Linked DNA regions of Homo sapiens. The protein of the gene in region 2 interacts with the protein of the main gene of each other region in a pairwise test. Each region holds a gene or a part of one and is shown on either strand. Other genes may lie near its edges.

Evidence for each region.
Region 1: the proteins of SP4 (region 2) and PELI2 interact in binary tests that used the Homo sapiens proteins (3 or more experiments, as listed by UniProt).
Region 3: the proteins of SP4 (region 2) and LMO3 interact in binary tests that used the Homo sapiens proteins (3 or more experiments, as listed by UniProt).
Region 4: the proteins of SP4 (region 2) and BANP interact in binary tests that used the Homo sapiens proteins (3 or more experiments, as listed by UniProt).

The regions. Positions count from the first base shown.
Region 1 is NC_000014.9:56,113,719-56,121,495, reverse strand, and holds the start of PELI2 (E3 ubiquitin-protein ligase pellino homolog 2), read right to left. Parts: upstream 3,086-7,777; 5' UTR 2,836-3,085; coding exon 2,759-2,835; intron 1,761-2,758; exon of another isoform or gene 1,634-1,760; intron 1-1,633. UniProt on the Homo sapiens protein: E3 ubiquitin ligase catalyzing the covalent attachment of ubiquitin moieties onto substrate proteins. Involved in the TLR and IL-1 signaling pathways via interaction with the complex containing IRAK kinases and TRAF6.
Region 2 is NC_000007.14:21,423,266-21,431,131, reverse strand, and holds the start of SP4 (transcription factor Sp4), read right to left. Parts: upstream 3,050-7,866; 5' UTR 2,881-3,049; coding exon 2,874-2,880; intron 2,456-2,873; coding exon 2,340-2,455; exon of another isoform or gene 2,229-2,339; intron 1,844-2,228; coding exon 289-1,843; intron 212-288; coding exon of another isoform or gene 201-211; exon of another isoform or gene 1-200. UniProt on the Homo sapiens protein: Binds to GT and GC boxes promoters elements. Probable transcriptional activator.
Region 3 is NC_000012.12:16,596,143-16,603,355, reverse strand, and holds part of LMO3 (LIM domain only protein 3), read left to right. Parts: intron 1-2,487; coding exon of another isoform or gene 2,488-2,495; coding exon 2,496-2,701; intron 2,702-4,388; coding exon of another isoform or gene 4,389-4,461; exon of another isoform or gene 4,462-4,564; intron 4,565-7,213.
Region 4 is NC_000016.10:88,031,343-88,038,555, reverse strand, and holds part of BANP (protein BANP), read right to left. Parts: intron 5,448-7,213; coding exon 5,311-5,447; intron 3,234-5,310; coding exon 3,162-3,233; intron 584-3,161; coding exon 545-583; intron 1-544. UniProt on the Homo sapiens protein: Controls V(D)J recombination during T-cell development by repressing T-cell receptor (TCR) beta enhancer function. Binds to scaffold/matrix attachment region beta (S/MARbeta), an ATC-rich DNA sequence located upstream of the TCR beta enhancer.

The DNA.
Region 1 (7,777 bases), on a different chromosome or scaffold from region 2:
ACATTAACTGGCTGGAATCATGAAATAATTAAATTCCACTAATCAGCCCAGAAAGTGATGAGCTCACTAAAATCCTAGCTATGTGGAATCTCTTAATAATACTGTGTAACACACAAAAAGATATAGAAGTATTTAGATATGGATATAGACATCTATCAGCTCTTCATTCTGCTCTCCAGGATTTCCTAGTAATGTTTCACTATGACATTCGAAAGTGAGCAAAAAGGACAGTCACATAACCATTAAAAAAAAAAAAAGCACTGAATTTGACAAGCAAAGCTTCTATCAATACCAAATATTAGGCATTTTTAGATCTCAGGAATCATCTCATTATTCAGAAAATCTACTTGAAATTTTCTGTTTTCCAATATTTATACCCCAGAGGACATAAAGATAATATCATAAAGATGATATTAATTCTATGTGAATGTTATTGTTGTTTTAAGATGAAGTACACTGTCTCAAATCCTAAGGGTGGAATATGAATAAGGTTCTCTCTAAAAATCTTCCTACCTAGTCACTCTTTCACCTGCACTCTTCAATGTGTTCAACATTGGTAAACAGTCAGAAACCTACCCTCGAAAAAAGAAAAATACCACAATTCAAGTATTCAAAAACCAGACTAGCATCCTCTACTCACATTTCACCTCCTCAGAGAGAACTTCCCTCACCTTCCAGCCGAAGAAACCAATACCCACCTAAGCAGTCACTCTCCAAGTTTATCAACTCCTCTTCAGAACTTGGCTGCACCTGAAATTGTCACTTATTACTCCTCTATTTGCATGTTTCTTTCTGTTTATGCCTGTCACTCCACTCTAAAAGGAAAGTTCCCTGTTCTCACTGCATCAGCAATGCCTAAACAGCACAGGCACAGAGTAGGTACACAAACGACGGTTGAGTGTCTCGCCCCCTAAGTGCCAACTATGTCATACTTTGGTCTCCTGGAAAAGCATTAGCAAAGGGCAGACCATATGCAACTGCAACGTTATATCCCGGGCTCCTGTGGAGTGAGACTATGATACTAGGACAATCCAGGGTTTCAATCCTTTCCGTGGCTTCGGAATGCCCTGCACTTCCAGCTATGAACACAAAACCTCTCCAGGCCCACTCGCTGCTTTTCTGAAACATCTCAACAATGATTTCCTCAAAAGGAAATAATGAAATAAAGTTCTGGCATACGTTAATCTTCCGCGTCAAGTTCACAGTGTTAAACACACTGAAGCCAGCCACACAAACAAAACCAAACTCCACAAGATTAGGTTGGGCTGAAGTTACATAAGACAGACTAAACTGCGGCTTTTCTCCTGTCATTCCTCCCGCCTTCCTGTGAACCCTGATATTTGTCTTTGAAGTGCAATTAAGATGTAGGTGAGAAAAACACTTATCTGCAAACAGCTTCAAAATAGGTAATGAGATTTCCAATACCACCCCCACTTAATGCACTAGCAACAAAGTCAGGAAGACTGGGAAGCTTTGAGTTGTGCGGTGTCTGGAAGCTTCCCTCAAAAACTCCTCTCTTTAAATTATTTTTAAGTCAGCACTTACTTCAAGGCACTCACTTATCAAAACACGTTTTGCAAAGTTCCCTGAGTCTTCCCACAGCCATGACTCCTCATATGTGTGCTAAGCCTACCTATCAGCGCCGAGGATGTTCTGAATACAGGTCTTTCAACGCAGAAGGACAAAAGCGCGGGTTCCCAGAGCGACACATCCAAAGGAAAAAATAATCCTTTCTTCAACACTAAACCCAAGTTGTTCCTTCCCCCCAGTTTCCTGCACTTCCCCCTTCCCCCTCCCCTTTCACTGCCCACTATATCCAGTTTTAAGCCCGCAAAGCCTCTCTCCTGGCTTATTAAGGGTAAACAATAGAAATGTCACAAGGAAACTCAGGAAGTAGATGAAGTCTCTAATTGCTGCCGTTTAACGATTGTACATAATTACTATCTTCAAGATGCGGCTTTCACCAGCAGAGAGGGAGCCGAGGCGGGCGAGGCTGGCGAGCTCCCCGCAGCCGGGAGGGCATCAGCGAGGCCGGGACCGGGGGGATACGGCCCGCGCCCCGGTGCCAGGCCCCGAGCAGCCGCATCCTGTCCCTCCCCTCCAGAGCACTCCAAGCGGGGAGAAGCGGAGGGCCGGCCGGCCCGGGTCACACACAGTTCACTGCTCTCGGGCTGCGGCGGCCCGCGGCGGTCATCGGAACAATTTGCAAAGCGCAGCCGGGGATCCCACAGCCCGCGGCGGCCCAAGCTCACGGCGCCGCGCTCGGAGTTCGGGGGCGCGGGTACCACGGTCCGCGAGGGAGGTGGGAAGACGGGGCTCCGCGCCGGCCGGCCTCTCAGCTTCGGGAAGCGACCCCGCGAAGCGCCCGCGACCGCGGCGCCTCACATGGAGTCCCTGCCCGCCCTCCCCGGCCCGGACGCGGCGCGCGGGAAGTGGAGCCCCTGCCCCCGCCCCCACGATACGGCCGCGGACCCGGTGCCCGGCGCTGCCCCCGCTGGGTCGCCCGAGTTCTGGCCACTTCCTCCGCCGCGTCCTCCGCGCGGACAGCGCAGCCCGGCGTCCGCCGCAGCACCCCGAGCGCGCGCCGATGGGGCGCATCCCGCCCCCGCGCCGCCGTCCGGGCCCTGAGAGCCTCTCCTGCCGCCCCGAGCGCCCCGGCGGTCCCCAAAGAGCACCGAGCCACCCCGCCAGCCCCGCTCCAGGATGCGGGCGCTCCCCGCCCGCGCCGCTGCCCGGGACCAGGGACCCCAGGACTCACCCGAGCACCACCAGCTCCCCGTATTTCACTGGCTCCTTATTGGGGGCGCAGTGTTCCTCCTGGCCAGGGGAAAACATGGAGCCCCGCTCGGCCGCCGACGCCGCCGCCGACGCCGCCGCCTCCGCCGCGATCCCCGCCGAGTCCGCGCCGCCGCTACAATCCCATCCCGAGAACGGGGTGAGCGCGCCGGGGAAGGGCACGGCGGCGAAGGGGGCGCGGGGCGGCCAGTCCCGCTGCTGCTCCGTCGTGGCTGCGCGGCTGCTCCGCCTGACTCCCCGGAGCTCCGCGCGCCGCGGCCGCCCCGAGTCAGAGCCGGCAACAAATGGGACCCGGCAGCAGGGGGACCTGCCTGCGCTGAGCGCCGCCGCCGAAGCCCCGCGGGAGGGAGGGAAGGAGGAGGGAGCGGGCGCACGAGAGGCTGGGGCCGCGCGGGGGAGGCGGGGGCCAGCGCGCGGGCAGGTGGGAGCCGCCCCGCCCCACGCAGAGCCAGGCGCCCGCCCCCGGCCCGCGGGGCGCCCCCTCCCCCGGCGCGTGGGGCCGTCCGCGCCCACTCCCCGCCCCCCTCGGCCCGGCGGAGGCTCGGCCCCTGTGTTATGTAAACATAGAGTAAAAGGGAAAGGAAGTTCTTAAAGGAGCAGCTCTGTTTTTTTTCCTCACTTCCTTCCCCAAACTTAGAGCGCGGGGTCCTCAGCCCTCGCCGCCTGGTTCTTCAGCCGCGAAGGCCCGCGGGAGATCCTGGAAACGAGCGGCCGCGGTTCCCAAGCCCACGTTTTCCTGGCTGGAGTTCGATGGGATTAACTTCCTCTCCGAGTAGAATAGCGCTCTCTCGACGTCACTGTGTCCCGGCTTACAACTAGAGGTGTCGCACACACCCACTTGGGTGCCTCCCCTTCCAAAACCAAGCAGAAAGGCGTCTAGAAAATTAGAAGGTTTTGCCAGTTGGTGCTGGCGTAGAGGACGTTTCGAAGGCGCTTGGAGCACCCCACCGTTGCACTGGATGTAGCTACCCCGGCTTGTGGTCAATAGAGCTCCACCTGGCTTTTGGGGGGTGGCGGGGGGATGGGGGAAGAGTTGTTTTTTAATCCATACTTTATCCACTTTTCCTGTGCCTTCTTTCCATCCCCTAATACATACAAGGGGAAATTACCTGGGTGGACTTTTTAGTGAACGTAAATGTTCCTTTATGACCGTGATTTAATCAATGCACTGTTTGCTTTCTATTCTTTTTAAACTAGTTATTGCTATGGCTTTAAAATATCGTAGACTGTATAGTTTTACTGACTGCTGTTTTTCATCATACAGGATTTTATTGTTCTAACATTTATTAAGCACTCATAATGTGCTAGAAACTCTACATATTATTGCGAGTCATTGCCTCTCAACACTGTTAAATATTTAAAGAAATAAATACTGCAGAAGCTACCCTGTGTATAGTGACTGGTTGGCTATGACCCGAAGCAAAGGGCTAGAAAAAATAATAATTGCATCTGTAACCTTCCATTCCGCTGTGCTGCACCCCTTGTGTAACATTCTCTGACAGGTTATTACGGTAGTGACATGATGTTTCTGATAATTTTACTTCAGTTAGGAACTGATTTTTTTAATTGAGGTTTTAGAAATAAATTATTCCAAAGTAACTAAAGCCACACCACTGGTAAGCCAAAAATAAACTTTATTAAACAGTTAACTTATTTCAGCTAACTATAGAAATTCTGTATTTCAAATGAATATTAGTTATTCTGCATATATTACGTATTCTCTATATTTTTTATATGTAATAAAAAATCTGTTACAGTTTTAACCAGCACTCCTTCACTAAAGGGATAAATCATGTCTCCTCCCCAGTGTTGATGTAAATTTCTTTCAAATTTCTGCTGGATTAATGTTGTCTTCATGTACTCTGTGCATCTACTTACCACATAGATTGTATGACTATCAAAGATCTGTCAGAATCATTCTGCAGTTGCGCCGTCACGATTACGATGATGCCTGCCTCTGTCACCCTAGCTTCTCTAGGCCTCCTCTGTTGCTGCTTCTGCTCTCTAGGCTACCATTACCTCCTTCCTTCTCTCTTGGCCTGCTGTGCCTGTGTGCGTTGCATTGCATTATACTGTTCTGGCTGCATTTCCTCCTTGCTGTGCTTCGCATCTGCTCTTAGGAAGATAGAAAGAAATATGTATTAACCTCCTACTAAGTTCCCAGCACTAGGCTGAGAGTTTCCCATAGGATATCCCAATCTTCCAAGGCCCCCCCGTCTAGCTATCTGCCTGTGGCACCCCTGACTTCCAGAGGGACATGTCTCTCTACTCTCCCAACATGTCTTTGAGAATGTTTATAGTACTTAATCAGGTCTGTCTTTATCAGACTGACTTACAGGAAGTGTTGTTGTGAATGAGTTTTTGTGTCAATGGAGGCTTTTTATCCTAGGCAGCTCAAGGCTAGATCAGCTCTGTGAATCACTCTGAGCCCTGAAAGCTTCTGACTGGTAAGAGCAATTCTATTGATCACAGTCAAGAATACATACAGGGACCAGGCATGGAAATCCAAATGAGCAAATGGGCTGAGTGAGGACTGTGGCACATTGGTAGGGTCTGTGCCGTCTACAGGGCTTATCTGTCACTCATCTCTAGCTGATTGTTGCCATGTGACAATGACAGTTCACTCTTGCTAGATGTAATTTTTCTAAAAGCCTCAAATCCTGATTACACCAAACCTCTCAATTTTTAACTGTTGGCAACTCATTCACACTTTCAATTTTCTTGAAACACAGCATGAGCCCATCAAAACTATGTCTGTTTTTCTAGACTCTATGTACCCAAGGTCCCCACAGTTGCTTTCTCTGATTTCAAGGAAACAGACATGAGTAAAGGTAAAAACACTTCTCAAATGGTATCAAATGGTAGGGCTGGGGGGATGGCAGAGTGGTGAGGGGTGTTAACTTGATTTTCTCAGAGCGTTGATGGCTTGTGTTCCTAAAGAAGCCAGCGTGTGACTTTCTCTGTGCATCTCTTATCAGAGTTATTTGCTCACAACTTAAACCAATTAGGACATGACCCCATCATCCCCAGTTAATATTAAGAATCTGATTGTAGCATGGATTTATCCTCTCTTGAATGTAATTGTTTTAGTGAGTTGCTCCAGGCTGGTGGGACAATCTGGCTGTGCCATCTGCCAACCCACTAAGAGCCAGGGTGGGCTTGGCTGACTTGATTGCCAGGGCAGACCCTTCCCTGCTCTCTCTGCTTGCCATTCCATTTATGTCCCTCACCCCAGACCACTCTCTTGAAGAGGATGACCCGCCCACATCATCCCAGAGGGAGTCTGTGCTATTTCTTGGGCTACCAGAGGCCATATGCTTACTATACAAATAAATAATGTAAGGCTTTATCTTGACTTTTCCCCAATTGTGTCTTCCTGTTTTGTTAAAATCAAAAGATTTAGTGAAAAAGTGTATGTTTGTTTTAAACATACCTAAAGTCAGTCAAATACCTTTCAGTATTTCTAGAATGAAGCATCTAATTTTTGGTCATTCTACATTCTACCTTACATGTTTATGTTTGGAAAGACTAAAGAGCAAGTAGACACTTTCAAGAATATGTTTGGACAAACCGAGCAAGATACAGTATATTTTTTCATGCAACTTTAGATTACATTTCATTTTTAAGCTGTTATCTTCTTGTAGTTTTCTGATTGAGAATAATATAAGCTCTTTGTCAAAAGTTTTAGAAATACGAAAAAAAGGATTCAAAAATTGTCTTAAATCACCTATAATCTCATTACCCAGAAAAAACCCTATTTATCATTTTTGTGTATTTCCTTCATTTTTTATTTTTAATTTTTTGACATATGTGTAATCACCCTCTCTAAAGTGTATCCTGCCTTTTTAATTTAATATTGTATTGTCAGAAGTTTTCTCTTGTAACTAAAACTTCAAAAATATTTTTGTTGTTTCATTATAAGTATCAACATTTATTAACCATTCCCCTCCTATGGAATATGTAGGTGGTTTCTAATTTTTGCTCTTATAAATAATAAACATGTTTACATTTGTTATTACTTCATGAAGACATATTTCTATAGGTAAAATTATTATATTAAAGGGTACAAATATTTTTAAGACCCTTTCATGCATATTTCCAAACCATTTTTCAGAAGGTTGTGACTGCCAGTTTATACTGTAACTAGCAGTATGTGAGAGGCTGCCTCAGGAAACTCCCACCAGCATTTTAAAATCCTTACTAATTTAATGGGTGATAATTTTTTATTTGCATTTTCATGATTTGCTATTGTAAGATACATTGACTTTTTCCTATTGTGGGAAAAAAACCCACATAACATGAGACCTACCCCCTTAACAGATTATTAAGTGCACAGTACAGCATGTTAATTGTAAGAACATTGTTCTACAGCACATCTCTAGAACCTTTTCATCTTACGTGACTGAATCTTTATACCCATTGAACAGCAGCTCACCATTTCTCCTTCCCCTTGCCCCTGGCACCCACTATACTACTTTCTGCTTTGACGAGTTTGATTTTTTGAGATACTTCGTATAAGTAAATCATGTAGTCATTTGTCCTTCCATGACTAGTTTATTTTACATAGCATAATGGCCTCCAGATTTACCCATATGATAGCATATGACAGGATTTCCTTCTTTTAATGGCTGAATAATATTTCATTGTAAGCATATACATTTTCCTTATCCATTAATCTGTTAATAGACATTTAGATTGGCTCCTGTGAATAATGCTGCAATGAACATGAGAGTACAAACATCTCTTTGAGTTCCCGATTTTAATAGTTTTGGATAAATACATTGAATTAGAATTGCTGGATGATACGTTAGCTCTATTTTTAATTTTTTTAGGAACCCCTATACTGTTATCCATAGCAGCTACACCATTTTACATTCCCATCTACAATACACAAAGATTCAAATTTCTCCACATGCTTGCCAACGCTTGTTATTTTCTGCTTTGTTTTGTTATAGTGGCCATCCTAATAGATATGAGATGA
Region 2 (7,866 bases):
CTAAATTACAGAAGGCAATTATGATTCTAATCAGAAAGCTCTGTCCCATAAAACAATACTTTTTAAAAAACTAACAAATTTAACACATTATTATAAAATCTACAAAAGTGAACATGTCACATTGATTACTACAGAGCTATGTTTGTTAGTATAATATTGCTATTTCTGGTTCCTTATGATTGTGTGTTTACTTCAGAGGTCTACGTCAAACCTTAGAATTAGGAGAGAAAAGCAATAATTGTTATGAAAAACTATTTAAAAGGTACTTAAAAAGATGTCAGAACTTACCTGCAACACTAGTGATTGTAACGGGAACTCCCTGCACTTGAACACCTGCAGCACCCAGGTTGGCAACGCTCACTGTCTGAAGGTTAGGCACTGATGCAAGCTGGGCAGTATTCAAAGTTATTGGGGCACCAGCAACAGCCACAGGAGCAATCTGAGCAAGAGTTGTGCCACCACTTGAAGACACTGGGGTGATGGTTAATTGTTGGGATAACCCAGCATTCTGAACTTGCAAATTTGAAAGACTCTGAATATTCTGAACCTGTACAGTTTGCCAACTGATTTGCCCTGAAGGTGTTAAAGTTGGAGCCCTGATAAGCACCTGAGTCGGATTTACTGCTTGAAGTTGAACATTCTGTAAAGGCTGCTGCTGGATGGTCTGAATCGTCTGCCCTGACTGGAGTTGAAACGACTGTGGTGGAATAGCCTGAATGATCTGTTGCTGAGGCTGTTGGATCTGGATCTGCTGTAAGATAGGTTGGCCTACAATTTGCACCTGCTGAAGAGAATTTGATTGATCCTGTGCATTCTGCATTCCATTAGGCTGAAGCTGACTGGAGCTCTGGGCTTCAGACTCAGTAGCAGCAGGTGTTTGAGATTCTTCAATGGTGCGTTCAGAACTACTGGCTGATGTGCTTGCATACTGGCCAGTATCTGCTGAGCTCACTAATGTGTCACTGCTTGTCAAAGACGTTGAAGCAGTGGTTGTGCAGGTAGTGGAGGAGGAGGGAGATTCTGGCATAGTACTGGCAGAAGTAGTGGTGTTGGTGGGTGTGGAAACTAATTGATTCCCATTGGAAGTCCCACTATCAGCAGTAGCAGCAGGCTGGCCAACCTGCCCAGTCCCTCCTCCGGCAGCCACGTTGTTTATCACTGGCAAAGCTAGAGTCACTCCTCCAATGTTAATTGGTAGGGTTGTTACAACTTGAGCCTGAGTACCAGGAAGAGTCTGTAACTGCAGTGGTATTGAAACACCAGGTCTAATTTGGACCGGAACTGTCTGATTTGCCAGGTTTTGAGCAAGAATATTCCCAGAAGCTGTCCTGTTAGCAGCTGTGAGTATAGCTTGATTATTACCTGCAGAAATGAGCTGAATTTGACCCTGCAAATCCTGTAGAGATGAACTACTAGTTGGATTGATTTGAATTTGTTGACCTTCCACTGTCTGAAGTTGTGGAATTACTTGGTACTGTACACTACCACTTGGATTTTGTACTTGTATGACTTGAAATTGACCAGGGGTGGAAGAATTACCTGATTTAGTTTTTGTAGGAGATGCACTCCCGTTATTACTGCTGGAAGAACTAGACGAACTAGAGGCTGGTTGAGAAACGTTATTCTCTTTTGAAGCAGGAGGAGTGGAGGCAACAAGTTGCCAAGCGTTTCCAGCAAGTTGCGTTGTTACCAGTTCTAGCTGTTGTGGTTGATTTTGAAGTTGCACCAATCCTTGACTTGGATCTATAATAATTTGTTGTTGTCCAGTTGCTTGATTTTCACCAGGAGTCCCTATTTTGCTGCAAGTAGCTGCCAGTAAAGCCAGAGGAGAGGGCTGAGAGTCCTACCCAAAATGGGACGGTAAAGGAGAGGGGGGGGGGAAAAAAAGTGGGCGGATTTAGTGGAGGCCAGTAGTTGCCAGGGGGTTACTTATTTTGACAGCTCTACATAACAATTTAGGAAGCAGCAGAAATCAAAAAGAAATACGAACAAAAGTAGATAAGAACTATATGAATAAGGAAGCAAGTCCTATAATATCAAGTTTAAATAAAAGGAAATTTCTTTACAACTTTGTAAAGTGTTATGTTCCTAAACTCAAAATGCCCTTGGGAACACACACACCGTTTTCTTATAGTCTGAATTCCTGATGTAATTTTAAACAGCGTTATACCCTCAAAGAGGTGAAAACTTGATGAATTTACAATTTAAGTTCCACACTCTCAGAAAGATGCTTTGAGTGGATAAACATTTTATTCTGTTACTTCTGGACATTCAAAGGGCATAACTCCCTCTCTCTCCTAATGTGTCGTGATGAATTTTTTTAATTTGTTTGCTTTTACCTGGGAGCCTGAGGTTTTGGGTTTTTTATTGTTATTCTCTGGCTCAGAGGTTTTCCCTCCTTCTGTAGCCATCGCCGCTGCCGCTGCCGCCTCCTCCTCCTCCTCCTTCTTCTGATCTGCAACAAACCCCCCCACCACACACACACGACAACAGGTTATTAGGATTATTATTATTCGTCTTCTTCCTCTCCTCTTCTCCCCCCTCCCCCCGAACATTAATCTCCATAAACCCGCGATCCACGCACACCGGCAGGGGGTGGGGGAGAAGGAGGGAAGGGAGGAGGGGGATATCACAAAACGTGGTTTGAAACCCGACCCATCGGCTCCAGAGCAACACCCAGAAGGAGGTTGTTCTCTCTCAGACATTAAGACAAAACACAACCCTCCTTCCCTCCCCGATTCCCTCCCGCCCTCTCCTCCTCCCCTTAAAGCATCTCAGCGGCCCCGGGGGAGGGGGGAGAACCGAGCAGGGTCTGGGGAGGGAGGGAGAGAGGGAGGCGGCGAAGGAGACTGAGGGGGGTGGAGAATACGTACCGCTCATCCCGCATTAACAGGACAAACCCTCAGACGGAGACACTGGGATAGAGGTGGGTGGGGGTGGGGGCGAGGCGGGAGGAGAGGCCGGTCCCGCCCGCCCGCGGTGGCTCGGAGGAGGCTGTAGCTGGCACAGGCTCTGCCTCTTTTTCCGCGAATGGCCGCCGCTGGGCTGTGGCGTAGCAGCTCCTCTCTCCGCCCGAGCCCGGCTGACTCGCCCTTGATTGACAGCGGCGGCGCGCGGCGCGGGCGGCGGCGCGGGTCGGGGGCGGGGCCAGGGCGGTGCGAGCCTGGCCGACTCCCCACCCCCCTCGGCCTCTCTCCGCCGGAGCCTCCGACTCTCCACCCCTTCCCCCAGCGGATTGGCCGCCGACCTGCCGGGGGCCGGGGCGCTGGGGCCGCCTCCTCTCCACCCCCTTTCTCGGGGTTATTCCTTTAGCAGCTCTTCTCCTCCTCCCTGGCTCCTCTGGCGCTCTTTCTCTCGGCGTTCTAGCTCAGGAGCGCTGCCGGTAGGCCCTCCATACAGCCAAACTTGTTGTCTCAGGATATCCCGCCCCCTACTCATTTCCCAGCGCCCTCCACTCAAAAACCCCCTCCAGCAATCCCTCCAATTGCCACTAAAGAAAAAAGTAGGGCCCTTGATCCAGGCAAGCGAGAGCGGCGGACGTGGGCGCGCGCGGACCACCAACAGGTCGGCGCGCTGGGTGAACTGCCCGCTGCCCCCGCGCAGGGAGCATGGCTTTCCTGAGGCGCATCCGGACCCGGGCGCCCTTTTTCCCTGGCTCTGTCTCCATTGGCTGAGCCCAGGGTGACGCGCGCTGAGTGGTGGGAGAAAGGGGGTGGGGCACTACCGCGAAGGCTGTCGGTACTCGTAGTTTCCGGCGGTCGCGGTGCCTTCTTCGAGGCACCGCCTCTCTCCCGCCCCCGACCGAGGCCTGGCTGCCGAGCGGAAAGCTGCCCGAGGGGGCGGTGGCGGCAGGGCGTGGCCGGGGCCGAGTGGGAGTTGAACTGAGCGAGGAGGAGGGGGAATGGGTGTTGTTTGCCTGGGCCTATCCGCCGCGCGGGGCTGCCCAAACCACCTCTGCCGCCGCCTCCTCGGCTCCAAGCCGCTCCCCGCGGGGCGAGCTCACACCCGGAGCGCTCGGCGATTGAGCGGGCGGCGGCGTGGGGAGGCGGGGTTTGCTGTCCTCGGGGTTTGAATGAACCCGGCTTCTTGAAGCAGCGCCCTCGCCTTGCCTTTCTTTGCTCACCTTCCCCTCAGGCCCCCTGCTTTGAGTCCGAGGCCTGTTTTCTCACGGAGAAGGATCTTCCATTTTTATTTGTTGTCTCTCTGGCTGGCAGCTGGTGCAGAGCAGTGACCCGCCTTCTAAGAAGGGTTGCATCGCGTTTTGCCTAAAAGCCTAAGTGGTTGGCGGAGTTCTAAGCCTTATCTGACAAGAGTCTCCGGGCGAAGAAAAGCCCAGCTCCATAAGGGTCAGCCCCGCTTACGGTGTAGCGTAAGCAAGCGTAAGGGCAAGTGGAATTAACATCTGGCTGCACAAAGCATCTTACTGTCAAATGCACTTGAGCAGTGTCCTGCCTCAGCTTTCCTACAAAGTCCTGAAGTCAGGATGATGCCATGGAACGTAATCAGCGCCTGATTAACTGTACCAAAGGTGGAAGTGACCCCACATGTAAATACTGGCCTTGGGAACAAGGCATGCTTACACCCCAGGCTCAAAGCCATTGTCTCACTTCTTACCTGGGCTTCACACTCAGCCTTGGGCATTTTTGTCTCCTGCCTGAGGCCTGACATGTTGCAATGGTGAGGAGGTCCCAGATGCTGAACTTGACTGGCATTTCCTTTGCTTGTTAAGGTAATTGCAAAATCAGCTGATGACAAAGCCATGCAGCAAGACAAAGCAATTCGAATAAAGAATTACATGGTATTGTCTACCCCATCTTATACAATGAGCCAGAGATCCCTGAACAACGTGCTTTTTCCCCATCGTGTACAATATAGAAAGCTCAAAAGTGCTTCTTACATTTACGTATATACTGTCTCTATCCTCAGGTCCCCTCCTCCTCCCAGTTCACCAAGATAAATGAAGACATTTTGCAGTCTTATGAATTGGGGCTTTCATTGTCGTTTTCGTTTGGAAAACCTGCTTCAGAGAGGCAATGTCACTGACTCTGAACCATAGATTAAAAATAATGCTTCGGGAGGCCGAGGCGGGTGGATCAGGGGGTCAGGAGTTTGCGACCAGTCTGGCCAACATAGTGAAACCTTGTCTCTACTAAAAATACAAAAAATTAGCCAGGTGTGGTGGTGTGCGCCTGTAATCCCAGCTACTCGCGAGGCTGAGGCAGGAGAATCGCGTGAACCCGGGAGGTGGAGGTTGCAGTGAGCTGAGATCACGCCATTGCACTCCAACCCCGGGCGACAGTGCAAGACTCCGTCTCAAAAAATATATAATAATAATAATAATGCTTACCATCAGTATGAATCTGCAAAGTCCTAAATATTCTCCACCCTATAGATAAGTGGGAATACTGGTATCCATGAAACATAAGTCCTGCTTTTTATGGTGGACCAAAGTCTTCTAGTCCCTGGCTGTTATGGACTGAATGTTTGTGTTCTCTGCCCCCTTCCCCATTCATGTGTTGAAATTCTACACGGGGCGCGGCTCACTCCTGTTATCCCAGCTCTTTGGGAGGCCAAGGCGGGCGGATCACTTGAGCCCAGCAGTTCCAGACCAGTTTAGGCAACATGGTGAAACCCAGGCTCTACAAAAATTAGCCGACGTGGTGGCGCTGTCCTGTAGTCCCAGCTTCTTGTGAGGCTGAGGCGGGAGGATCACTTGAGCCCAGAAGGCGGAGGTTGCATTGGGCCAAGATGGCACCAGTGCACTCCAACCTGGGCAACAGAGTGGGACTGTGTCAAAAAAAAAAAAAAAAAAAAGAAAGAAAAAAAAAGGGAGAGAGGGGAAAGGGAGGGAGGAAGGAAGGAAGGAAAAATTCTACCCCTTAGTGTGATGGTATTAGAAATTAGAAGGTAGGGTCTCTGGGAGATAATTAGGATTAAATTTGGAGTCCTCATGAATGAGATTGGTGACCTTAGAAGAATCAGGAAAGAGCTTGCTTTTCCTTCCTCTGCTCTCTTCTATTTGAAGATAACAACCAAAAGTCCTCAGTGTGATACCCGGTGGAAAGCGAGTTTTGCTAGGGAGGTAATATTGACAAAGACTCTCTCCTTTGACCAAACTTTAATCTGGTTATTCTAAGTCCTCTTTCTGACTAGGTCCTGACCTGGAACTCTGTCCTTAGTTTAGTGGCTTTGTTCATTTAGTCCAGTTTTAGCAAGAATCCTGCTGGGTTGGTTGGGTAAAAACGCCTCACCCTTAATATTTGACCATACTTGGTATCTCATCAAATTCCTTATCCCCTGTTCTCGATATCTTAGCACCCTGGCCTGCCTTCAGCAATAACCCCATTAAATTGGTTTAGCCAGAATCCTCCTTTATTCTGGAAATTTCCCCTTAGTAATTTTCCATCCACTGACTCCATCCTGCTCCTTGGCTTCAGATCTCTAGTTGTCTTTGTATTCATAGTTGAGCCCAATCTCTCTCTCCCACTGCAAGACCCCATTGGATAGTCTCTCCTTGACTAAAGTCTTTATTGCTGTCTTTAACAAGTATCCTGAATTATTTTTTTCTTCAACATTGTAAATATAAATTCAACAAAATACTCGGCCTCAGGCCTGCGAGGGTGGTCTTTTCCCTGAGGAAGCAGTCTAAAAACATTCCTTCCTATGCTCATTATTGCCTAGAAAACAGTGGCTTTCAAACTTTTAAAAAAATTATGACCCACAGAAATAAATATATTTTACATCATGGCTGGCCCAGTGTGTACTTTTTAAAAATTTATGACCCTGGGCCAGGCGCGGTGGCTTATGCCTGTAATCCCGGCACTTTGGGAGCCCAAGGTGGGCAAATCGCTTGAGTTCAGGAGTTCAAGACTAGCCTGGGTGAATCACTTGAGGTCAGGAGTTAAAGACCAGCCTGGCCAACATAGTGAAGTCCCATCTCTACTAAAAATACAAAAATTAGCCAGCCGTGGTGGCAAGTGCCTCGGGAGGCTGAGGCAGGAGAATCCCTTGAACCTGGGAGTCAGGGGCTGCAGTGAGCCGGGTGCTATAGTGAGCCGGGTGCTATAGTGAGCCGAGATCATGCCACTGCACTCCAGCCTGGGCGACAGAACAAGACTCCGTCTCAAAAAATAAAAAAAGGAATAAGTATATTTTACATATGGCCCAGTGTGTACACACACAGAGGAAATCAGCATTTGTATGTGAAATATTTAATGACACTAAGCACTGACCATTCAGCTCAAACACGTCCATAAAGCTGAAATAGTGTCCTAGAGGTAGAAGTCCTCTGCCACGAATTATCCTTGTAGTTGTGGAATTGAGAGATCCAGAGGGTTGGGGAACAATGAGGGGACTTGCCAAGGAGGGGACTTGGACACTAGTTCATGGCATAAATGAGAAAAAGGGACTGTATTTGAGTGTCTCTTTTAGGAAGTTTCTTTTTTTTTTTTTTTTTTGAGACGAAGTCTTGTTCTTGTTCCCCAGGCTGGAGTGCAATGGTGTGATCTTGGCTCACTGCAACCTCCGCCTCCCAGGTTCAAGTGATTCTCCTGCCTCAGTCTCCCAAGTAGCTGGGATTATAGGTGGCTGCCACCATGCCTGGCTAATTTTTGTGTTTTTAGAGAGATGGGGTTTCACCATGTTGGTCAGGCTGGTCTCGATCTCCTGACCTCACGTGATCCACCAGCTTCGGCCTCCCGAAGTGCTGAGATTACAGGTGTGAGCCACTGCCCCCAGCCAGGAAGCTACTCTTTAAATAACTGTTAAGCTGCTTCATTTTTTTTTTCTTTTTTTTTTTTTCCTAGCACCCTCCGAAAGTTATACAAATCATTTTGTATTTGGGAAGCAGATAGCAAAGATTTGGAG
Region 3 (7,213 bases), on a different chromosome or scaffold from region 2:
CTTTTGCTACAATTGTTAACTTGCATGGAATTCAAGAGATTCCATTTTCAAGAGAATTGCCATGATGTTCTTCAAATAAGGTACCAGGATGGAGTGTGAAATATCAAACTCCTTTTATGCCCAAGGCCAAACAGAATGTAAGAGTTTCAAATATTAATTGGCCTCTGAGTGCTAAATTAAAATGTCAACACAACAAAAACATTTTGTGAAGACAAGTAGGGTAGTGTTACTTGTGCCAAATGTTGGTATCCCCTGTCTTGGTTGCAAAGCATTTTGAATAAAACAGCTGACCTTCTATGCTTGATGGTAGAAACACAACTGTGGGAAATATAACTTAGCTGCTACTGGGATTTTTTTTTTTTTCGATTTTTCATCTTTGAGCTTTGTGATAAATAAAAATAATAGCCTTACAAATTTAATAGAATGGCCGTTAATTAGGATGGCTTAATTAGAATGGCTTCTCTTAATATTTATTATCTAGGTGTTTTCAGTAACACCATCCAGAATTTCACTGAGTAAATCAAAACTTCCCCTTCCCCCTAGATATGTGGTTAACAGGCACTTGGATCTGTTGTTCACTGTAATTAATGGGATTCACTCCTTGTGGAACCTTGCTAGAAGAGGATAACTAGTTCTGATCAAAGAAACTTCATTTGTTAGAAGTTCTAGAGAGTGAGATTTAGCAGAGCTATCAAGGGTTATGATTAATCTACACTAGGCCCTTAGCTCCTTCAAAGGAAAGGAACAGAAAGCAGGCTATAGGGATACCACCTGCTCTTCTTACAAATCCAGCTGTTAGTCTGCAGCTCCGGTGACTACAGCTATGCTTATGATGCAGAAAGAAAGAACAGCTACTCTGCTTTATTTCCTGCCATTCCCTACACAACTCTACCAGACGAGTTATTTTCTAATGAAAGTTCAACATCCTAACAATATTTTGTGCAACTCATGTATTATTTGTAGTTAGAAAAGTTATTCCGCTCTGCGGATGCCTTGATGTCTCTTACCAGTGGGATTTTTTTTTTAAAAGGTTGTGAAAGTTGTGATGGGGGTGAAGCCTTCATCATAAGATATCAGAGGAAACTGGAGGAGGTTTAGCTGTTTTGGAGAAGGAAAATGTACAAAAGTGCAGATTATAGCTTGACATTTCTTATCCTATAATGCATGCACATTTGGTGTTTTGTATCCTTCTACATGCAAGTTTAAAACTTTATGCCTAGGAGAGCAAACATAATGCAGCAGAAGGGTCTCTGGACTGTAAGAAGGCCATTTGGCTGGAGTCTATAGCGTAACTGTCTTTCAGCTTTGAGCAAGTCTCTGAACCTCTCTTGGGCCTCGGTAACATAATTTGTAAAATGAGGGAATTTGGAATTGATGATGTCTGCAGTACTTTATAGTGCTTAAAATGAGTTATTTGATAAATATGAGGCATTGGATAGTTGGTCCAGCTTCTTGCTAAAGCTGGGTGTTTTAATACCTAGGAAATAAGAAGACACTCAAGGTGAATGTCCATTCATTCAAAAGATTTCAATCAAACTGTAAAGCCCATGGAATCCAGCTGGATTCCTTATTTATGATGGATTTATACCTTTAAAATATATAAATGTTTCTATGTTTAGCATAGTATACATATAACATGTATATATTTACTTATATATGTTTGTATAATTGTATATATATTTAGATCTTGCCTTCTATTGTTTTTTCTTTCCTTTATAAAACAAATAATTGCATGTTTATGGTAATAAATGGTATAATCATATACTTTAGGTTTACATAAAAGCATATAGTATATAGTTAAGTAATCTGCCATTAATATAGGTGCTGACTGATGCTTGTGAGTATAAATGTTATATTTGAACACAATGAATACTTTGAAATATCAAGGACATAGAAGAAGTATTTGGATGCAAGCAAGAAATATAGGATTGGTGAGCTTTTTGGGTAGCTGTTCTGTGTACTTAACTATAAACACCTCTACTGCTGAATAAGGTTAGTGTAACCCCATACCAGGTGCCCTCTCCTTCCACCATCAAGCACATATTAAGTGAAATTTTTAAACAGTTAAGCAAAACTCATTTTTTTACTTGTAGGGACTGTGCATAGATTAATTTGTTAAATAGCTTTCTTTTCAGATTGTTATTTACTCACATTTTCTTTCTAAAGGAACTGCTCTATGGGGAGAATGAAGATACTATAAAATTATTTAATGTTATTGAACTTCATATTTATAATGTCAATTTACCATGGTCAACATGAATTTATTATTATTGTCACTTGGCATGTGTAACTTTTTGAATGATTTAATAAGCACTTGATAAAGTTTGAGACTTTTTGTTTCCAAAATTGGGTTTGATTTCAGTATAGCCCTAAACAAGAAAAGCTAACACTCCTAGAATAAGGAAATATTAAATATTTAACTTGTTTGAGGTCTTTTTATTCTGTCTGGTAGTCTCAGCTCTCTTTTTTGCTTTTGTCTTCCTTTAGGTATACAAATGCTCTCAGTCCAGCCAGACACCAAGCCGAAAGGTTGTGCTGGCTGCAACCGAAAGATCAAGGACCGGTATCTTCTAAAGGCACTGGACAAATACTGGCATGAAGACTGCCTGAAGTGTGCCTGCTGTGACTGTCGCTTGGGAGAGGTGGGCTCCACCCTGTACACTAAAGCTAATCTTATCCTTTGTCGCAGAGACTATCTGAGGTAGGAATTATCCTTGCACACCAGTGATGACTGGATGCCTTTTAAAGTACTTTTGTAAGTGTATTTTTTGTTTGCTTGTTTCATTTCCTTACTGCCAGCTTATATTCCTGAAAGAAGTTACCTGTCAGCCTTCAAAGCGTTGCCCTGTGTGTGTTACTCAAATTAATGCTTAAGGAATAGCCAACAAACCACAATATTTAAAGTATTTCAATTTGGCTTGCCTGCACACTCAGGCAGTTGGTTATGGCGCTGCCTATGTTGAAACTGCCAGTTAATGTCAAGGATGTATTTGGTCGAAATCAGCATTCAGGTTGATTTACTTATTTTTTCTTTTTTTTCTTTTTTTTTTTTTTTTTTTTTTTTGGAGCTTAAGGGGGAATGGGGGTTGAGCATAACACAAAGAAATTGATCAGCCATTTGGCAAAATATCTTAACTATTTTTAAAAAGTTCAACTTGAAAAAAATGGACTGTGTAAAAGAGTTTAATTGTTGCCTCTAAGTTGGACCTGAATTTAGTCTTCTAAAGTTATTCAGCTGTCTTCTCTGTTTCAGGTGTGTCAGAGGAAGTCAGGTGCAAATCCTTGGTTAATATCTATTAGTGCATTTATTGTAGAGTTTTGAAAACTTTCCCCAAGTGTAGATACATCTTCCTCTCGCCCCACCTCATGACATTCTAAACGGGAATCTCAAAAATACAACTAAGCAATTGAACCGCCTCAGACTTGCCAGTAGTTTTATGGATAATAACAAAGTAAAGACCTCCATCATTATAGGAAAATGACAGCCACTCTCCAACCTGTAAACATCTGAATGCTTTCAGGACAAGGCAGGTGTTCTTGGTTATGGAGCTATGAAGCCTACTAAAGCTTGTTTTCCAGCATTAAGTACTCAACACAGAATTTCTGCTGAAGGAAAATTATTTTGCTTTTCAGGCAACTTTGTGACTTACTTCAGCTGCAAATTACTTATATTAATAAAGTAGGATCTATCAAATTAGAGAAATGATATATGGCATCATTGGGATTTTCATATTTAATACAATTTATCATTTTTCTGGTCTGACATTAAGCGATTTATTTGGAATTTTTTCCCTTATGACAAAATTTATCAATCAATGGTAACTCCTTTAGTACCTTGGTCATTTGATGAGGTGTTTTCTAGGGAATTTGGTCGTTCTTAGTATATAATTCAGCTATTTTCAGTCAGATCCAATCTTTAGATATAAAAATATATCATTTGATTAATGGTAGTTACAAGAGGGTGAAAGCGGTACTGTTTATCAGATTCTACTCCTTCTCGCTCTTAGGACGGCCTCATCTGACAGCCTCCTGACTAATTATGGCCACTTGTTACTACTTCTCTGTGTTCCAAGTGCGTAAAACACATGCAAGGTGCCAACAATGAGAAGTCACTCTCTCCAGCCAGGATTTCCCTCATTGTGTTGGCACAACGAATCAAAATTAATGTACAATGTTCATTTTTTTAGAACTCTCCGGTCTTTGAACTTTCCTCTTTGAAATAAAAATTTCTCTTCTGCCCATTGTGAATTAGAGCCTCATTTCCACATAAAGCATTTGTATTTGCTTTTAGTGATTTAATACTGCTTTTTAGTTTTGCTTTATCTGTACTAACCAATAGTCATAGCTTTTTGACTCCTTTTGACTTTTACATTTGTTTGTAATTTCAGTATCTCAAGTGGATTTATGTTACCATTTCAAATAAGGAGTTTATATAGCCCGGGCAATGTTAAGGTGTTTTAATAAACCAAAGGACAAAAATTAAGTAAACTTGAAAGAATGTCAACTGAAATATCTGGGGTTTTTGAAAACAAAAATAAAAATTTGCCAAGGAAATACCTATATTGTGAGTATAACATGCTTCTTAGCTGTCAACATAGCATCGAGCAAAGACAGTAATCTTAGATTTGTTTTGTTTTCTTTTTCCTTGTGGTAGTAAAAATATATTTGATAGTCTCAAGTGTTTTGCTAAAACGCATTTATCAAAAATAGTTTTCATATCAGAAGTTTTTGTATCTCTATAAGAGTGTATGTGGCTTTTTGTAGAATAACTTTCAGTTACCTCCTGATAGGCTCAAACTTTTAATGGTGGTTAACTTATTAAAAGTATATAATATTCTTTCAAATATAAACCCTGGTCCTGATTGCCAATATATTCATTTCTCAGAGTACGATTTCCGCTTAAATTGGTCATTACCACATTAATGGCCAGTTGTTATGTTAACAGCCTAACGGTTGTTAACATTTCAAACTAAGTTGTTAACAGCAATCTTGTCCCTTATTTAAACTGAAAGTTTGTTGTATATAATGTGACTTATTTGGCAACTTCATCAACACTTAAAATTGCAGAAGTGAAGTGGAGAATTGGTGTGTGTAAAACACTGTGTTACGTGTTATAGATTATGCCGCAGATGTGGTATTTAGTTTTATGTGGAAAGCATGTGTCTCAGTGAAATTGTGTAGATGTTCAACTGCATATGTCTCTGATTGGCAAATTAAAATAGTCTGATTCTGTATGGTAAATCAACAAATATAGTCAAGCAGATTTTATTTACAAATTAATTTCTTTGATTAGATACAAATAGTTGTTCAAAAATGTTTATTAAATGCTTACTGTGTGAGAGGTATGATTTCAGGCAATGGGTGAAATTAGCTAAAGGAAAAAGGAAGGTACACCTAAAGTTGCCACTATCTAATTGTTTATTTAATTACATAGAATCTGTAATATAATCAGTGAACAAGTAATATTCTGTGGTTATTTTCCTGAGCTTTAAAAGTAATTTTTCTCATTTTCCTCCAAATTCAGCATACTTCCATTTTGTATTTTATATAACCAATGTTTAATCACTTAAGTTCTATTTTAAAAGTTGTTTTATTTTTGGCCCTTTGATATTATGTAATTTCTCTGAGGCACCAAACTGAACATAAATAACTTACATATTTATATTTCATGTCTAAATTATTAAGAACATAAGTAAGAATAAGGAAAGTAATAAAATAGTAATTTGCCTGTCCACATATATTGTTGGTTACAAGTATTGTCCTGGGCCAGATAATTTTTTACATACAGTGAAAAGTAAAATATTTTTGCCAATTACATTTAGCTTCTTAATACACTTCTCCCTCCATAAACAGAAAGAAAGAAACACTCCTAATTATGAGCAATGAGACTTAAAGATCTGTGTTTTACTTGTGTTACTTTGAGTAGTGATAATGATGATGTGATTTATAAGTTCTTTGAATGATGATTTGAGATATTAAATAATATGAAAATATAATAATTTAGACTGTAAGATATTTTCTTAAGGGTTATAGAAACTATTATTATGGAAAATTTGATGTCTTTCCATTTTTTTTCTCCTTTATGGCACTAGTAGCTATATTTAAGAGAAAAAGAAAGAAAAATCTTCCATAGTTTGTACACTAAGTATCAAATCTTAACAGTGGAATTTTTCACTTTCCAGAACTGGACTGGCATATCATTCATTTAGCTGTGGAACATAAAATGTACATATCTGATGAGACAGAATTTGCCCATTTGTGGGATTGCTTTCCTCCTTTGGAAACTCATTAGCTAAAGAAAGAGAAGGACTGACTTTTTAAAACTTCCTCTAACATGTTTCTGACTGAAATTATGAAATCTACCCAGTCAATATTTATATGCCAGGCAGACCAAGAAATGTATCTGTTAAAAATCTATCCAATGCATTTATAATTATTTTTATTTTTTTGAAGAGTAACTTATGACAAATTAGATATAGAAACATCTTTGTACTTTAAGTTGGAGCTTAAAATTGATATTGTCTAAAGTAGATTAAAAATGACTGTGTAAAAATAGCAAAGTTGTAGTGATAATGTTTAAGGTACTCATCACTGCGATCTATCCGCCTTATTTCAGTTTGAAAAAATATGAATAAAGTAGCCAGCCAGTGCATAATCAGAGTCTTAGAATTAGGAATTCTACATGCTTTTATTTAATGTTTTGCAGCAAGCATTAAATAGAACTAGGAGAAATACCAAAATACTTTCTTTTTCAACTTGAAGGCAATAAAGGATGTCAGAATGTAACTGGAACTCAACTTCTGGGCAATTTTTTTGTTGTTCTTTCTTTGAACCTGCAACTTTTTGTGACGTACTTTAAGCATTAAGTCTATATAGGCTGTATGTATCTTGTATCTCTATGAATGATATCTTGCCAGAGTTTATTCAAAGCTGTTTGCTGTGGTATGTGCCATGGAAGCTGCTTATAGCTTTTCCTATATAAGAAGCTGTAAAATGTCTTATATAAAATTTAATGCAATTTGCTATTTTTATACGTGAGGATGATTTGTTTAAAATGAAACTACTGGGAAAGAGTGATGCTTCATGCTTCACCATAGTTGCTAATTAACTAAAATGATTTGAAGCTTGCTATGCTGACTACAAATTTTATAGGCTTTAATATAATAATATAATAACTCTAAAAGAGAAAATAAAAATAAATTGCCACATAGGG
Region 4 (7,213 bases), on a different chromosome or scaffold from region 2:
CAGAGTTATCTGTGCAAACATGACCACCATCAACATACGCATGCGTGTGCAGAAAATAACCATCTGAAGGGGGTGGGGTGGCGGGGGTGGGAGGGCACGTTTCCGCCATAGCGCAAAAGCTGCTGAAATCCTACGGAGCAGCAAATGTAACCCCCAAGCCCTGCCCTCCCCCCTTCCAGGCCTGTGCATTGTCATGGTGAGGAAAGCCAGTCCTGCTCTGGGGCTCACACTGAGAGGCCTTTGCACCCTCGCTCCCTCCCGCGAGAGCCCCCATTCCTTGGCAGCACCATGGCCTGTATGTGAGAGGGGGACTGTGGCACTCACCTGACCATCCGCCCCCTTCCCATGAGAGCCCCACCCCTCGGCAGCGCAATGCCCACAATGACCGTCCCACCCCTCCCGTGAGAGCCCCACCCCTCGGCAGCGCAATGCCCACATGTACATGGGGACCAGGGCACTCACCTGACCGTCCCACCCCCTCCCCTGAGAACCCCATCCCTCGGCAGCGCAACGCCCGCATGTGCATGGGGACTGGGACACTCACCTGACCGTCCTGCCCCACGTGATGGATCTGGAGGTTGCCCTACAAAGAACGAGAGGAGGAGACGGTCATGAGTAGAAACACACCAAGACACCCTCAGACACGGCAAACACGCCAAGACACATCACAGGCCACTTGAGAATAACAAGAAAACCCCAGTTCTGCAAAAATTCAACCTCCAGTAGCAACAAAAGCCCCAAAACAAAATATTGACATTTCTAGGTACTATTTATTATTTTAAAGATGAACAAACAACTCAAAAAGCATTGTACTCATTCCCCTACCCTGACCCCAAATGAAAATGTCATTTTTACTTCATTTTTTATTTTGAAAGAATCTGACTCACAAAAAGTACAGAAAGTAGCAGAGAGACGTCCTATGTGTGTGTCGCCCAGCTTCCCCGAAGGGGGACGCCTTGCTGAGCTGTGCGGCATCACCACGCCAGGTCACGGGCTGCACGCAAGGAACCAACTCACTCAACCACAGAGCTACTAAGAGCTCTCCAGTTAGAAATTCATTTTCATTTGTTGTAAAAAGGAACTGTGTTGTCTGTCAGACCCTGCTAAATGTTTATTTGCAGATATCCTGTTTTAACAAAATAATTTTAAATGAACACGGTATGAATGTATGGTGACGAGACTGCATACTGTCACTCATCACAAAGCCATCGTTAGTATTATTAGCAATTTCTAACTTACTGCATTCAATTCCTATTGAAAACGAAAGACAATCACCTATACAAGATGGATTCAGTTTTGAAAACTGATGGATAAAACTAATAATAAAAAATTGAAATTCGAGTAGTCAAGATTTTTTTAGCATAAACTATAAAAAGCAAATGTGTGTTGTTTTTTTTCTTTTGCTGCTGTTTCAATTTTCCTGCATTTTCAATGACTCTAAGGAAATTAAGCATTCTGACGAACTTCATAGGCTTCCAGGTATTCAAGAACTCTGGCTGAGCTCTTTGGCAGTGAGCTTAGCCTCCCAGCCCACATCTGTCTGTGCCTTGAGAAGCAAACCTTCCCCTGCCCCTCAAAGGCAGCTCCTGCACTGGAAGGTGCTGCTGGGATCCTGCACCTCGCAGCCACTCAGGCCCCCAACTCCTGCACCTGACCTCGCTGAGCTGACAGGCGCATCTCCTGACATCTCCAAGGAGATGGTCCCTGACCCACCCACAGACACAGAACAGGGAAGGCCCTGCTCCTTCCTGGACACTCTGGCCTCCTGGGACCGTCCCCTACCTGCTCCCCGCCCTGCTGCTTCCTTCCATCCATCCATCTGACCACGTTTCTTAGTGACCTGGTCATGTCGCTGTGTGGATGAGCCCACTCATTCCCAGTCGCTCACGGCCCCCACATGAATTCGTTCCTCCCCTTTCACCTCATCCTCATTCCGCCCTCAGAACCCTTACGCATGTGCTCCCCTCTCAGGATAACCCACCGGGAACTGCTGGTGTCCAAATTAAAGCCACTGCCAGCAGACACGCCCGAGTCCCTGGTGCTCCACGTGCCACGGCGTGCATGTGTCCACAGTCTTGCTCACGGGCACTTGGGCAGGAGGCTCTGCGCCCGCTGTGAGTCCCCGATGGCAGGGCTTCTCTCTCCTCTGCTCCCCCACAGCACCTGCACCCAGCATGAGCTCCCAGGAGGCCTCGCACGCCAACATCTCCATGAGTCCCCTTGACCTCAGCACCCGGGCTTCCTAGTCTCTGCTGCTGGTGTGTGTGGGGAAGCCTGAGATCTTTGCAGCGACACACTACTATGCACCAAACACAAAGCTGGTGCCATTGTCACGACCTAGAAACAGCCATGTTCCTCATCCCCCAGAGCGCACCACGGTCACTGAGTACAACACGTGTGTGCTGCTTAGTGCCCTGTGCCTGCTGCTGCCTGTGCTGCAGGAAACAGCCCAGAGTCGAAGGACGGTCACCCGGGAGACAGTCCTGCTCTGGCATGCAAACATGGAGCATCGCAACAGGCTGGCCTCGGCTTTCCAAGAACTCAGACTGTCACTGCCGCCTTCACATTCCAGACCCCAACAGCAGCTGAGCCCGCACTTCTGAGTGCGTGGCCGGGTAGAGCTCCAGAAACTGAGACAATCACAGACCCAGCAGGTGCGTCAAGGGCTATGAGCAGCTCTCAGGACTGGCAGCATCACCTTGTGGGATTCCCCACCATCCCATGAAATCGGCACTAATCCCGTAGAGGCCACTAGGAAGCTGGGGCCACATGGCAGGTGAGGGGGTATGTCAGGTCACCTACGCAGGGGCAGACCCCATCTCGGCCACACTGGGGGCCTCCCCTGGCAGGAAGGGCAGGGCCAGACAGGGAGAGAAGGGTACTCAGAGGGCACTTCCAGCCAGCAGTAGAAACATCTACCCAGGAGATCTTTACCAAGACAGACCAGAAGCTGTGGAGACCAACGGACAGGAGGGGGAGGCAGAGAGGCCACAGAGACTGCAGGCCCGCTATGTGCACCCTGGAAGCGGAGTCCTGCAGCCCTTGCCCACGTTCCCTGTCCTGGGGGCTCCCTGCTGCCCTCGCACTGTGACACCGATGAAGGTCGGGAGCATGTGGGCACGGTGCCTGCAGGGACAGTGCTGCAGCGAGAGCTGACTCACCTCGCTGTCCTGCGTGATCTGGACTTGCTCCCCCTGCGGCACCTGGGCGATGTGGAGGTGTCCCTGTGGGATCCGCAGCAAGAAAAGACACCAAGAAGCATCAGAAGAAAATCAAAAGCAAAGGAAACAAGAAACATCTTCCGGAATGTTTGTTCTTGATTATCTGTTTACAATTCAAAAAGATAACTAAATCCTGAATAGTGCAATATAGTCTGTGGTCACTTCTTTAAATTAAGCTTTTGGTTCACAGTAGTCCCCCTCATCCATGAGGGTTTCAAGAAGCACCCCCTACCCCCACCACGTGGACGCCAGAAACTGTGGATGGTGCTGAACCCCATATATGCTATGCTTTTTCCCGCCCATATGTGCCACACAGCTTGGACATGCTGGACAAAGGAACGACTCACGTCCCGGGCTGGACAGAGCAGGACGACCAGACTTCATCATGCTACTACTCAGAAGAGTATGTAATCTGAAACTTACAAATTGTTTATTTCTGGAGTTTCTCATCTAATATTTTCAGATCACAGTTGACTATGGGTAATTAAAGCCTGGGAAAGTGGAAGCATGGGTAAGGGGGGGCTGCTGTGTAACACAGAACATTTTCCAGCACTTCACAAAGGAGCAATAGGTCCCAGGAAAGATATTTACATCTTTAAATGTTACTAAACAAGTAAATTTTAAAATGTGCATGACACACAGAAAAGAGGGGAAATAGAAAATCACAATGACACCTCTTTTCAAATGATACGTTCAGCTCTCTGGGGATACTGGGAGGCTACGCAGTGTGTGGCTGAAGCAGGGGAGCTGTTGGCGTGCCTACACTCACAACAGGGCAGGCAACGTTTTTCAAATCAAAGAAACACTCATATGACTATTTAGACAGTTTCAGTAAACACTAATAAATGTGATTCAAAAAAAATCAAAGAATCCACTGTTTATACATATGGGCAGACAAATAATTCCTATAAACCTGTAAATGAAACGAATACTCCTTATCTTATTTGAAATTCTCTCTTAGTCGAAATGGATCTTAAAATAAACTCCTGTAGAATGTTCTATGTAAGCCTTATGACAAAGTTATCTACTCTGGAACGCTTTCAAAGAACTTCTTACTAACAAGATGAGAGGAACTGCCGTTGTGAATGTCAAACAAATTAATAAGCTTATTAAATAAGATTCACTATTCATAACTGTCTCATCTCCTTTGGAAGAGGAAGGGTAACGCCCCCTCTAAAAGCCCCAGAATTTTCCGGAAGCCTTCCCTCTTCCAGACAGCATGCTGAAGCCACACTGAGATGAGAGCCACGCCCCACTCTCAATAGTGGAGGACCATGTTTCCAGGAGAAAGCCCTGGTGACACGGAGGCACACGATGACCTGTCTTCAGAGGGCCCAAGGGGGCTGGTGCCACTAAAAACATAGGCGAGGTCTAGTGGTGCATGTAAAATTTCTAGTCACTCAGCAAAGCTTCCAGAAAAGTCTTCCTTCCTTCTCAGCCACGCCCTACTCTCATGCCACAGAATCCAGGAGGTGTTTGTAGAGGGACTTCACCCGGGAGCAAGCCCCTAGGCGCATCAGGCTGACCACAGCTTGGGTCACAAAACCCCAATAGAGAACTCCGCACGGGCAAGGCAGGACATTGACTTGCTGCTGGGACAGTGCCCGCCCAACCTGGGTGTGCTGAGTAACTCCAAGGGACACGCTGCATGGGAACAATGACCTCAAGCTTTTGCCACTGATCCTAGAAGGAAATTACTCTTTCCCTCAGTAAGAGAGCGCCTGCACTTCTGAACTGAGAAATATTTCCGATGTTTCCCAGGAGCACGAGCTGGGGCAGGGACCACCGCACGGCCTGACCCTTGGAGCTGACTGCCCGCCTGCCTGCTGGCAGGACTGAGGTGAGCTGACTGAATGCCCCACCCCACCATGTGCTTCAATCCCTAGGCTCTGCAGCAGCCGCCCCCACCTGTGAAATGTTAAGAGCTCATGGCCACGATGACCTCTACTTTAAATGGGGACCTTGTGCCTCCTCCCAAGCTATCACTGTGCTCCCAAAACACAGCGGAACCGGTGGAAGCCGCCATGGCCCTGCCGTGGCCCACCCCGCAGCCCCCTTTCCCAAGGTGTGAGGTGGAGAGGGTACGTACTACTTGCACCTGTCCGTCTTCTCCGATCTGGTGGATCTGCACCTGCTGTGCGTTGGCCAGCGCGTAGTGCAGGGCCTGCGGCTGCGGCTGTGGCTGCGGGAGCTCGCTGGCAGGAGGTGGGGTGCTCATCATCGGCTCTGTGGGGGCAACAGGTGTGAACGGGGTGAACGAGAAGTTTCTTAGGCATTGCCTGGTGTGGCATGTGTGCACCCCCGTCCCCCACTGTCGACTCCCACAGCAGAGAAGAGGAAATGCTTCATTTTTCCTCGACTCACTGCATCTCCACTCTTCTGCAGAGATCACTACCAGTGAGTCTTAGGAACTGAGGCTTCCGACATGGAATGCAAAAGGGCCTGAGAGTGGCGTGATGCTGCTATGACAAAACCCCTTCTAGTCCCCAACTTATTTAAATGAATGAAGTTCTTAAAGTGGACATTAAAAGCTGTTTCAGGCTGGCAATATTTGTCCATGGGTAATTAAACTAATAGAGCAAAAGTCTCATCCGCACACTTAAAGATACATTTCCAACAAATTTTACTTGCTGTGTTTAATCAAAATGAGATACATTTGCTTTGATGTACTGTGTATTAATTTTCACTGTAATGATGTCTCAATCATAATTTTCTTAAACTCTCAGAATATTAAGAGCGCAGAAAAACTTTTTAATTTTCAATGTATACACGTAGTTTTGTTGCAGAGAATTATAATGACTAATTTTAAAAAGCTTTTAAGCATAAAAATGTAGTCCGGACACGGTGGCTCACACCTGTAATCCCAGCACTCTGTGAGGCCAAGGCAGGTAGATCACCTGAGGTCACGAGTTCAAGACCAGCCTGGCCAACATGGTGAAACCCCATCTCTACTAAAAATACAAAAATTAGACAGGCGTGGTGGTGGGGGTCTGTAATCCCAGGCACTCAGGAGGCTGAGGCAGGAGAATCACTTGAACCTGGGAGGCGGAGGTTGTAATGAGTCGAAATGGCACCACTACACTCCAGCCTGGGCAACAGAGCGAGACTCCATCTCGGGGGTACAGGGGAGGGAAGCAGTAAGATGAAATTCTGTGAGAGAAGTAGAATGTTGATATGAATGAAAGGAGAAAAATGAAAGACATAAAATTATTGATTATTAAAGAGAAGCGGGCCAGGCGCGGTGGCTCACGCCTGTAATCCCAGCACTTTGGGAGGCCAAGGCGGGCAAGATCACTTCAGGTCAGGAGTTCGAGACCAGCCTGACCAACATGGTGAACCCCGTCTCTACTAAAAATACAAAAATTAGCCAGGTGTGGTGGCACGCGTCTGTAGTCCCAACTACTTGGGAGGCTGAAGTAGGAGAACCACTTGAACCTGGGAGTAGGTGGTTACAGTGAGCTGAGATGGCACCATGGCACTCAGCTCCAGGCAACAGAGCGAGCGGGGGAAGGGACGGGGAGGGGCAAGAGAGGGGAGGGCAAGAGCGGGGGAGGGGAGAGAAAAGCTTTCCATGTATTTTTTACCAATAGCTAATGGTAGGTATTAAATTGCCATAGTACCTAGATTCCACTGAATACATTTTTTAAAGTAACAATAAAATGTTGGGTTTCTTTTTTTTTTTTTTTGAGAGAGAGTCTTGCTCTGTCACCCAGGCTGGAGTGTAGTGGTATGACCTTGGCTCACTGCAACTTCCGCCTCCCAAGTTCAAGCGATTCTCCTGCCTCAGCCTTCCAAGTAGCTGGGATTACAGGCACCCACCATCATGCTGGGCTAATTTTTTTTTGTATTTTTTTGTAGAGAAGGGATTTCACCAGGTTGGCCAGGCTGGTTTTGAACTCCTGACCTCAAATGATCCGCCTGCCTCAGCCTCCCAAAATGCTGGGATTATAGGTGTAAGCCACTGTGCCCAGTCACATTAACAGAATGTTGAT